2 separate regions of the Homo sapiens genome follow, and region 2 is linked to region 1. The links come from fine-mapping of genetic effects on gene expression. A gene starts in region 1. The other region holds a variant in brackets. All regions are shown on one strand. Distances are from middle to middle.

The links.
Region 2: its variant is fine-mapped to the expression of YWHAZ in iPS cells (PhLiPS, PIP 0.95).

The regions. Positions count from the first base shown.
Region 1 is chr8:100,948,929-100,954,299 of GRCh38, reverse strand. YWHAZ (tyrosine 3-monooxygenase/tryptophan 5-monooxygenase activation protein zeta) reads left to right here and starts at 2,280. Exons shown (of 6, transcript NM_145690.3): 1 at 2,280-2,371. RefSeq lists enhancers at 796-925, 936-1,045, 1,325-2,183, 3,336-3,415, 3,042-3,901 and 1 more and silencers at 1,186-1,865, 1,886-2,145, 2,376-3,145, 3,536-3,755.
Region 2 is chr8:100,923,332-100,928,702 of GRCh38, reverse strand. YWHAZ (tyrosine 3-monooxygenase/tryptophan 5-monooxygenase activation protein zeta) reads left to right here. Exons shown (of 6, transcript NM_145690.3): 3 at 3,664-3,787; 4 at 4,405-4,568; 5 at 4,653-4,748. Among named protein-coding and RNA genes, the nearest start is that of YWHAZ, 26 kb to the left of the region's middle. The variant AT/T (reference allele first, on the strand shown) is at 2,504.

The DNA of each region.
Region 1 (5,371 bases):
TATTGTTGCACTAAAAAATGCCTTGCTATTAAAGCATGAGGCAAAAGCCTAACTTAGCTGTTTCCTGAAGTAAATCCATATTTATACAGAAAAACCCCTTAACTTCCTCTAAAACAAAAGGCATATACTCTACATAGACATATATTTGAGACATTAAAGAAACATCAATTTCCATTTTAAAAAAACGTTTAACTTAGTATCCTCTGTCAAATTTCTGGTGCCTACGAAAAAACTGTAAAAAAAATAGCTTTTGAAATATTACTCATTTTAAGTGAGTCACGCCCTAAAAGAATTTACTTGGGAGTCAAAGCTAGTTGACCCTAACATCTCAGAAATAAAACTCCAATTTGTTTATCCATTTAACCTACCATGAGTCTGTGATTTGGCAACTTGTGAAAAGCAACAACAAAAAAACCCACTAAAATATAACTGGTCACTGGAAACCCTCTTTCTGGTCTGTACTATCTAAATGCCAGCTGTCATGTCAGGCAAAAAGTAATTTGTAGAGCAGCCTTGTGGTCCACTGTATTATGTAGGAAAGACAATGTACTGGAAGAGCGAGGACTCAATCATTTCGTGTCTACTACTGAGAAACTAAATTCTGTAGAGAACATGAGGCTAAACGGAGGCTCTGGTCAGCTCAATAAAGATACGTTGGAAGAATCAATGGGGAGTTTACACAAGAGTAAAATGAAGAGTTCCAAGCTCTCTCATTGCTAACCGTACACTCTCCATGGCTGTTGCAAGTGGTTTTGCAGGTCATCCAAGCACTAATCTTTTCTTAGCCCGAACACATTTAAAGAGGGAAGGGGCAGAGATCATTCACACTGTGAATGTTTCTCTCTGAACTTCCTGAAGTCAACTGGGCGGAGGCCCTACCGGTTCAGGCACCTGCAATTTCCGCCTTTCTCCTTCCCCTTCTTCCGGGCTCCCGTCCCGGCTCATCACCCGGCCTGTGGCCCACTCCCACCGCCAGCTGGAACCCTGGGGACTACGACGTCCCTCAAACCTTGCTTCTAGGAGATAAAAAGGTAATGATCGTCATGTGCAGTATGAGGTCTTCACGTGAAAGCTTTATTTGGGTAGGAAAACCTAGCCTACGAGAAACGGGTCCGTGCGGTCACGCCTGACTGCCTGTCTCCGGGTCAAGGCTGCCAGGACCAGCTCCAGCCCTCCGCCCGAGAAGGCTGTCCTTTCCCCTCGGAACTCTGGCTTCCCTAAAGCGGCCGCGCCTCCTTCCAGGCCTCACCTCCTGCCGGCTCCGCCCGGCCCGGCCCACCTCGCCCCCACCTCGGCGCCCACCCATTGTCCCCTCGCGCAGTCACCGAGCGCAGATCCCGCGCTCTCGATTGGAACGCCTCCCCATCACTCAGCCACACTCAGGGGCTGGACGCCTCACTCCCGTTTCCGAGCCATAAAAGGTCTAGGACCGCTTCCCCCGAGCCAGCAGGTAAAGCCGCGGCGGCGGGAGGGAGGCCGGGAGGGGCCGCGCGCCCCGGTCGGCCCAGCCGGGGAAGGGGAGCGGCGGGCGGGGCGGGGGGCAGCGCACCACACACAACCCTCCCTTGCCGTGCGACCGCGCCCTGCCCCCGCCCCGGGGCCCCCGCCCCGCAAGTCCTGATCACAATGCCGGAGCCGCCGAGCCACCCTTGTCATCCTGCCCGGGGACGGCCCTGGGGCAGTTACTACCGCGAAGCACGGAGGGTGGGGCGGGCCGGGCCTCGGGGAGGGGTGGGGGGATGTGAAAGGTCCCGGATGTTGCTGAACGGGAGCCCCTTCCAGAGGGAGTGACTGGGGCAAGCGCAGACGGGCTGAGCGAAAGCTAAGGTGGGGGTAGGGAGAGAACGCCTTCCCGCCGGCTGAGAGGAAGAGTGGGCCGGCAGAGGCTGCAGGGGAGAGGGAGAGAGAGGGCGTTGGGGACCCAAAGGGAAGGCGAGGAGTGGGGGATTTGCGTTGGGGAGGAAAAGGAAAAAAGCAGCCTCCTGCCCTAGGTGCACTCGGGACAAGCGTAGAGGAGCTGGAAGCCGAGCGGGGTGGGAGGAGTGGCGGCTGCGGGCGAGGACGCGCGCGCCTCCGCTCGCCCTCCAGCGCGGGCGGGCAGGACGAGCGCCGGGGAGCGGCGGTTACGCGGGGCCCCGATCGCTGTGGGCACCAATCAACGGTTGCCATAGCAGCGTTTGACGTCATCGTGCGTGTGGTGCCCCTGCTGCCGGGGCTGGTGATTGGAGGAAACCCCGTGTCTGCGGAGCGGCTGTAGCCTGTGAGCAGCGAGATCCAGGGACAGAGTCTCAGCCTCGCCGCTGCTGCCGCCGCCGCCGCCCAGAGACTGCTGAGCCCGTCCGTCCGCCGCCACCACCCACTCCGGACACAGGTGAGGAACCCGGCCGCCGCCGCGCCTCGCTTCCTGTCCCAGGCCAGCCTTCCGAACGCGTGGGAGCCGTCCTCGCTCCGTCCCCTCATCCCCACTCGCCCCGCGGTGGCGGCGCCGGGCTGAGGCGGAGTCTCCTCAGCGGACACGGGCGGCGGCTCCTCTTCCGCTGGGCTCGGGAGGGCGGCTAGCGGCCGCCTCCGGCTCCTTGCTTCCGCATCGACGCCCCGGCGCCGATCGGTGCTCGCTCCCCCGTCCTGCCCCCGGGGGTGGGTAGGGCGCCCACACGCGAGATCCCTGGGGATCTCCCTGTCGCCGGCTCCCGAAGGTGGACGAGGCATGGCCGGGGCGCCGCCGGCCGCGATCCATCCCCACCCTTGTCTCTGCGGGCTTCCACCCCCTCCCTCGCCGCCCTTCTCGCTTCCGCCCGAGATAATGACTCGGCGGCGGCGGCGGCGGGCATCGCAGTGGCGCAGGTGAGGCCGCCCCCTCCCCTCTCCCTCGGCCGCCCCCTCCTTTCCCTCCCCCTCGCGCAGCCTCCGCGCTGGGCGCTGCGGCGGCGGGACCCGGCCCTCCCCCACCCCGGGAGGCGGTGGCGCGGCGGGGAGGGGCCGGGGGCCTCGGGGACCCAAGCGCGAGGGAAAGGCCTGGCCGAGAGCGGGCCGGAGCCCAGGCCTGGCGCGGCGGCGCCCGCCAGGTAGACCGGGGCGAGGCTGCGCGCCGGCGGGAGGGGAGTCCACTGCGGGGTGAGGTTTTGGGGTGGGGCTCGCCTGGGACCTAGAGCTGAATTTCCTGGGCTCCGCGGTGGGAGGAAGGACTTGAATTTTCCTGGTGGGGGTGGGGGATGGGTCTGACTTTTTTTGCTCCTTGTGAACGGGCGGGGGAGGTGTGGACGGGGGCTGCAAGTCCAGGTCGGGGTAGAGAACAGGGTGGTGAGCCCGCAGTCGGCTCCCGTGCTTGATGGACTAGAACTGGAGGGTCCCTGCGCTCGGTTTGGGGACGCATATCCTGCTTTGGGGGCGGGTGAGCCTGAGCATAGCCGCTGGTGGCCCGCTCGGCTGGGTGTGGCTCTCGTCCCCTCCCCCACCTGCAGCTGTCGGTCCCTTAGAGACGCTGTACACGGTCACCGGCGCTGATCGGTGGCGGGGAAGGCGCTGGGTGGGAGAGCGGGGTGTGTCCGCGGCGGGGCTGGTAGTGGTTCCGCTTCTGCGGGCTGCTGTGGCGTCTCTGCCCCGGGGTCGGGCGGCTTCGCTCCCCATCTCTCCCCCCCCCCCACGGCTTGGGCGGGGGCGCGGGCTGCTCCTCCCTCTGGCTCCGGTCGGGGGGAGGAATTAACACTCTGCAGTAGGTTGGGCTCCCTGACACAGATCCGCCATGACAAAGGAGGAGAGTCGGGGACTTGAGCCGTGGCTCCGACTTGGGCGGAGCCTGGAGGGGGGTGGTTGCGATACGCGGACCGGAGAATTTGCACTTTAAAGTCCGGGTCTGCCCGTTTTCGTTTCACAGTAACCGACGTCTCAAGTCAGGTAAGGGTTAAATGGGTGCGGTGAGTCCTGCCCGCAGTGTAGAGGCGAGGCCTTGGAGCACTCGTTACTGTGTGAGAAACCTTATCCACTTCCTCTTGTACCGAAGTGATTGGGGAGAGAATCCTTTGTACTGGCTTAAATCATTTTTTGTTAGAAGCAGAAATAACCAGAGAGCGTTTCTGAGATCCTAAGGGAAAAATCAGTAATTTAGAGACCTGACGAAAATAATGCCGTCATAAAGGTTAAATAGTTTACGTATTGAGCCAGTACCTTGCATCCAAAGTGGTTAATTATTTGTTTAAAATGTGGCGACCTGTTCTCTCATTTGGTTAAAAAAATATTGTGGGATTTCCCTGGGAAGGTAAAAGATGATTAATATTCGGGAGCCAGCTGCCAAGGTGGACTCTTCTGTTCACCTTCTAACTTAAAAGTGCACTTCATTCAGGGTGTGTATTTTCCTCTGAAGTCATTTATTCTGTGGTGTCACTGTGTGGATTAGTATCTTTGTGCTGTTCGGCAACTTGCAAAAGGGTATCTTTCCAGAAAAATGTAGCTGAGGTAAATCGAAAAGGTCCAGGAAACTAAAATGCGAGGGAAAGAGAATTAGATGGGTAGTCATGGTAAAGGACAGCTTGAGTGGTAACATCCAATTACATTATGATGGCTAGAAGCAAAATGCAGCACTTCTGCATTTCAACTGGAGCGATGACATTGGAAACACTTATAAATTAAGTACTTCCAATGTGATATATTCTAGTACTCACAGTAAGAGTTGAAGTGTCATGACTTGCGGATATTTTTAAAGCATGTGGACATATAACAAGATAAAGAGTTGAGACATTAGGGTCAGATATTGATCCTTTGTGGTGGATTTATACTCAAAATATCTGAAAACAAACAGTTGGTCATTCCCCCCCAAATTGTTATGCTATTATTGGCTGGCAGTTGTTGCAGAGATCTAGTAGGTTTGGGGTAGGGGTAACACTAAAGCTAAAATGTAATCACTCTTGACAAGAGTATTATGAAAGTAAAAAGACGTGAGTTACATTAAACTGATATGAATTATGATTCTGGAAATATGATAGAAATCCAGATGTTCTCTGTAAACAATGCTTTTACTAAAGGAAGAAAAGCTGCTTAATTTTGGATCACTTAGTGGTATTGGAAATGAGTTGAGATTTTGATCAGGTAAGATTAGGGGTAGTTTTTGAGGCAGCTTTTGGAAGTAATTTTGACATGTGAAATTTGGGTCTTCTGAACAAATTTTAAGTTTTGCTACACTGATGTGTTAATGGCTGTAAGTTTACCTCTGATGCTGAGTATGCTAAATTTTTTTCCCTTTTTTGACTATCCTTTTGTGAGGCTGCATTTTAATTCCTCATGTGAACAGTCTTTCACAGGCAGTTAGGTTTCAGGTTTAAAAAACTCATTTACCACAGGTATAATTTTGAGTCTGTTTATTTTGATGGGAAAAATT
Region 2 (5,371 bases), 26 kb after region 1:
GGAGTGCAATGGCGCAATCTCAGCTCACTGCAACCTCTGCCTCCCGGGTTCAAGTGATTCTCCTGCCTCAGCCTCCTGAGTACCTGGGATTCCAGGCGTGTGCCACCACGCCTGGCTAATTTTTTGTATTTTTGGTAGAGACGAGGTTTTACCGTGTTGGCCAGGCTGGTCTCGAACTCCTGACCTCAGGTGATCCACCCGCCTCAGCCTCCCAAAGTGCTGGGATTATAGGCATGAACCACCACACCTGGCAGAAAATGTTCTTTTATAGTTAGCTTTTTTTGAGCTACAGTGTTAGCCCCTTTAAATTTAATCTTTAATCCAGTCTTGCTTGGTTTTGGGTTTTTAAATCTTAATTAGCTTATGTCATTGGACGATTTATTAGAAGTAGGCCATTTATGCCTTTCTCAACTCTTTTTTTTTGAGACGGAGTCTCACTCTGTTGCCCAGGCTGGAGTGCAGTGGCACTATCTCAGCTCACTGCAAGCTCCGCCTCCCGGGTTCACACTGTTCTCCTGCCTCAGTCTCCCGAGTAGCTGGGACTACAGGCGCCCGCCACCACACCTGGCTAATTTTTTCTTTTTGTAGTAGAGACCGGGGTTTCACCTTGTTAGCCAGGATGGCCTCGATCTCCTGACCTCGTGATCCGCCCACCTCAGCCTCCCAAAGTGTTGGGATTACAGGCGTGAGCCACCATGCCCAGCCACCTTTCTCAACTCTTATGGTCAGCATCTCACCAGAAACACTTGCCACTTGTTTGGTTCTTTTGGTCTATCATTAGGCCAGTAAGCAGCCTGACTGCTGTTTACCCAGCCCTCCTGTTACTTGTGGGTTCTAACAAATAGCTTTAAAGTTGTTTTATGGTTAATTCAGTGTTCAGCTTTGGGGAAAGAAGTGCTTAACTGCCATTTTAATTCCCAGGGAACTGCTTAGTTCAGCATATTACCCAGGTAGAAAGTTACTACCTACAAAAGATAGATTACTACTTTTAGTAGCATTTATCAACACCTTTCCTAAAAAAATTTAAGTTTTTAGTACAGCTTTAAAATTTTACATCTTAAGTGACTGGTTCACTCTTAAGTAACTGCATGTGTTTATGGCCTTCATCTCTGCATACATAGAGGGGGTTAAAGTTACCGAAAAGTGAAAGACGTGATTAGGCAGTGTTACTCTTTTTGAGACAGCCTCACTGTCACCCTGTCCTAGAGTACAGTGGTATAATTCAATTACAGATCACTGCAGCCTCAAACTCCTGGACTCAGATGATCCTCCTGTCTCAGCCTTCCAAGTAGCTGGGACTATAGGGGTGTGCCACCACACCTGGTTAACTTTTAAATTTTTTTGTAGAGGCAGGATCTCATGTTCACCGGGGTGGTCTCAAACTCCTGGACTCAAGAAGTGATCCTCCCACCTCAGCCTCCCAAAGTGTTGGGATTACAGGAGTGAGCCACCGTGCCCTGCAATTCTTGTAAAGTGTATTGTAATGGAAGGAATGATAGCCTTGTCTCTACAGCTAGATTATGAATTACCAGAATATTGTGCTTCCAGCTTCTAGCATGGTGTCTGGTGTTATTGTGATAATAGAAATAAAATTTTAAGTGCTTACTCCTAAGTGCTTACCTGTATTTTTTCTCAATAATCTTAGAGGTCTCTGCCTTACAGGTGAGATAACTGAATCATTGAGATTAAGTAGTTCACACGGTGTATAGTGCTGTAATTCAAAACCAGACTCACCCCAAAGCCACTTATGTTTATACCATCTCCCATAGTTGAATGAATAATACAATTTGTGTAACAATGAAACTTTTGAAAATCCTGGTCATTTGTTTCTTAAAACCATTGTTTTTAAGTGGAAAGACTCACTTGACTATTTTAAATGCAAGTGTCTTCCACTGTTTGAGGCAGATCTCCACAGAGCAACCATAGGTGGTAAAAAGCATTGTATTCAAAGGACAAAACACTTTTGCAGCTAAGAGAACTTTGAATATGAAAGTATGAATGTGGTGTAAGACAGAGGTTGCTATCCTAACCAAAACGTTCTTCTGATTTCCGGCCAGTAATTTTATTTTATTTTTATTTATTTTGAGATGGAGTCTTGCTCTGTCATCCAGGCTGCAGTGCAGTGGTGCAACCTCGGCTCACTGCAGCCTCTATCTCTCGGGCTCAAGCAGTTCTCCTGCCTCAGCTGGGATTACAGGCGCCCGTCACCACGCCTGGCTAATTTTTGTATTTTTAGTAGAGACAGGGTTTCACCATGTTGACGAGGCTCACCTCAAGTGATCCTGCCACCCTAGCCTCCCAGAGTGCTGGGATTACTGGCATGAGCCACTGTGCCCGGCCTCAGGCCAGTATTTTTAAATATCGGTTAATAATTGCAGGAAACATCATTTCAGGTTGACTTTTCTCACCTTTAACCTCTTTATATAGCACAGTGCAATCTGGCCCTACTGCCACTTCATCTGGGTTATCTGTAGCTTGAGTTGTAAAAAAAAAAAAAAAAAAA[AT/T]TGGGGGAAGAAGTTGGGTTAAAACTGTTCACCTACCCAGCATTGGAACATAATGGGTAAACAAAAAGTTGGAGTTACCATTTAAAAGCATTTTTCAAATTTATATTTTATATATAAGTAGGTGCTATATAAACTAATACTTTTTTTTTGTAAGAATGGATTTGGAATTTAGCTCAGCTGAAAATTGACTTCACCTTGATTCTCAGAGTGTACTTGAACTTTAAAGGAAGTGGGGTAGTGAGAATGGGTGGTTGGGGTTTTTTTGCTTTAATGTTTACCTAATTCTACTACTAGAATTATTTTTCTCCCCCTTAACTGGAAAGAAAAAAATTACACATTTATTGAGACTTCTTCCCATCCCCAACACAATGATCTAATCTTTTTGCTTTAAAATCAGTTAAAGAGTGTAATTTTTAAAATCCTAATCAAATGACTCAGATTGTAATAGTAGTTTTAGACAGAATTTTATAGGATGATGTTTTAATTTTATCTGTTGTCTGGGATGATCTGTAATCGTGTATCTTACTAGCCGAAAATGACTTCAATGAGATTAAAGGTCTGCTCTTTAAAATCTGTAAGTCTCCTACCACTGTCTTTAGGAAAAATAAAACTTTTGAACGGTTTTTTTATCTGTTGTGAGGTTTGCTTGAATTGTGTTGTTATAAATGAAGTTTATTTTGTTCCTCCTTCTCTGGCATGGACTCCTTAAGTGTCTTACATTATTGGTTTCTGCTTTAGTCATTTCTCCAGAGTCCCAAAAGGTTCATCCCGTATGTTCTTTCTATTTTCATGTCATGACCACATGAAACTTCAGATGGAAAGCTTGCCAGCTCATTAGAAAATGTTCCTAAATGTGAACGGTCATGCCCCACATTCATGAAGTCAGCATGTAAATAGATAACATTGTCAGGGACCAATGTTCAATTTTATTGTCCTCAAATAATAAACTGAACACTAACTTCAAACTTAAAATATTGCTGCCCAAAGCATTCTGCTTTAAACCACAAATTCATGTGCCAGCTGCATTCACAATTGTATTGACAGTGACTGGGTGTTTAAGTTTTATAACTTAGGCTATAGTTTGTTCTTTAAGAAATGCAAGTTCTTTCAGTTTTGTAAATGTTTTATTCTCACTATGTCTGTTTCTTTTCTTCTTAAGTCTCTTTTGGAAAAGTTCTTGATCCCCAATGCTTCACAAGCAGAGAGCAAAGTCTTCTATTTGAAAATGAAAGGAGATTACTACCGTTACTTGGCTGAGGTTGCCGCTGGTGATGACAAGAAAGGTATGCTGTTTTTAAACCTGTTGGTTGAACTTGTATAAGATAACATAGTGAGGAAGAGTCTCTGAAGCGTACATAATGTCTTGTTTTGAATTGCTTAGAGTGCCGAATAAGGAGTAGCAGTGCTCTTTGTGTTCTGAGAATACACATCTACTGCCTCATACTGCTATTCTAAAATAAATGCTTTCTGAAAAGCCAATATTGTGTACAGGGATGTTTTTTCAAGATTTTAAGAAAAGTGACCAGCCTGAGCAACATCTCTCTCTACAAAAAATATTTTGAAAATTAGCTGGGCATGGTGGTGCAAGCCTTTGGTCCCAGCTAATCTGGAGGCTGAGGTGGGAGGATTGCTTGGGTCTGGGATGTCAAAACTCGTCAATTTTTTAAAAACATAACAATAATGAGATTATAAAGTTGTTTTATCTTGACATTGATCAATGGCTAGTGTGTACCAGGAGAAAGCTCCCTTTAAAAAAAAAAAAGGACCTTGTTCAATTAACAAATATTAAGCTGTTACAGGTTAGTATTTCAAAGGATATGTGAGATATTAAAGGTTTGGTTTGAGGGGTGAAGATATAATGCACACTTTATCTCAGTACGTTTTGGTGTGTCTTATCCAGGGATTGTCGATCAGTCACAACAAGCATACCAAGAAGCTTTTGAAATCAGCAAAAAGGAAATGCAACCAACACATCCTATCAGACTGGGTCTGGCCCTTAACTTCTCTGTGTTCTATTATGAGATTCTGAACTCCCCAGAGAAAGCCTGCTCTCTTGCAAAGACAGTATGTATTTTACCTGTTACGTAGAAATTTAGCAGTCTTTATTATTTGAGCACTGAAATGTAATGTACTATTTTTAAATCGTAGGCTTTTGATGAAGCCATTGCTGAACTTGATACATTAAGTGAAGAGTCATACAAAGACAGCACGCTAATAATGCAATTACTGAGAGACAACTTGACAGTAAGTACATAACAGCATCATTAGTGATGAATGTGGTTGAAGAGGTTATGTTTTACTCTAGGGAATTTTTTTTTTTATTAAATACATCTTTTAAAATTTTTTCTCAACACATTTCATAGGCTCTCATAAATATATCTCAGCTACTATTAAAGTCCTATGAAGGAAAATTACAGAAACTGAAATATTAGACTGAGAACTAAAAAATACACACATTGATGAGTTACCTGTCTTGTTAAAATTTGTTAGTATCAAAAGTGTGCTGAGACTCTACATGTTTTAGTTCCTTTAAGAATGATTTTCTTGCCCATCAAGTTGCCTCCATATTGGTAAAGATAATGGTAGGGAATTAATAACTTGAGTTACAAAATCTCAGGTATCTACAGAATCCAAGTGGAAGTCTATTTTGCCTAGCTTCTTATTTTAAATGACTTAATATGAAAGGTCGTGATTGTCCTTGGGATACTGCAGATGTATAAAAAGAAACAGTGTCACTATCACACCAGGAACATCAACATAATTCCCTAATAATGTTTGAATATCTAAATAATACTTGAATTCCAATTATCTCTCTTTTTTTAAGTTATTTGAATTGGGATTCAAATTCAGTCCACAATGCAGTTGAT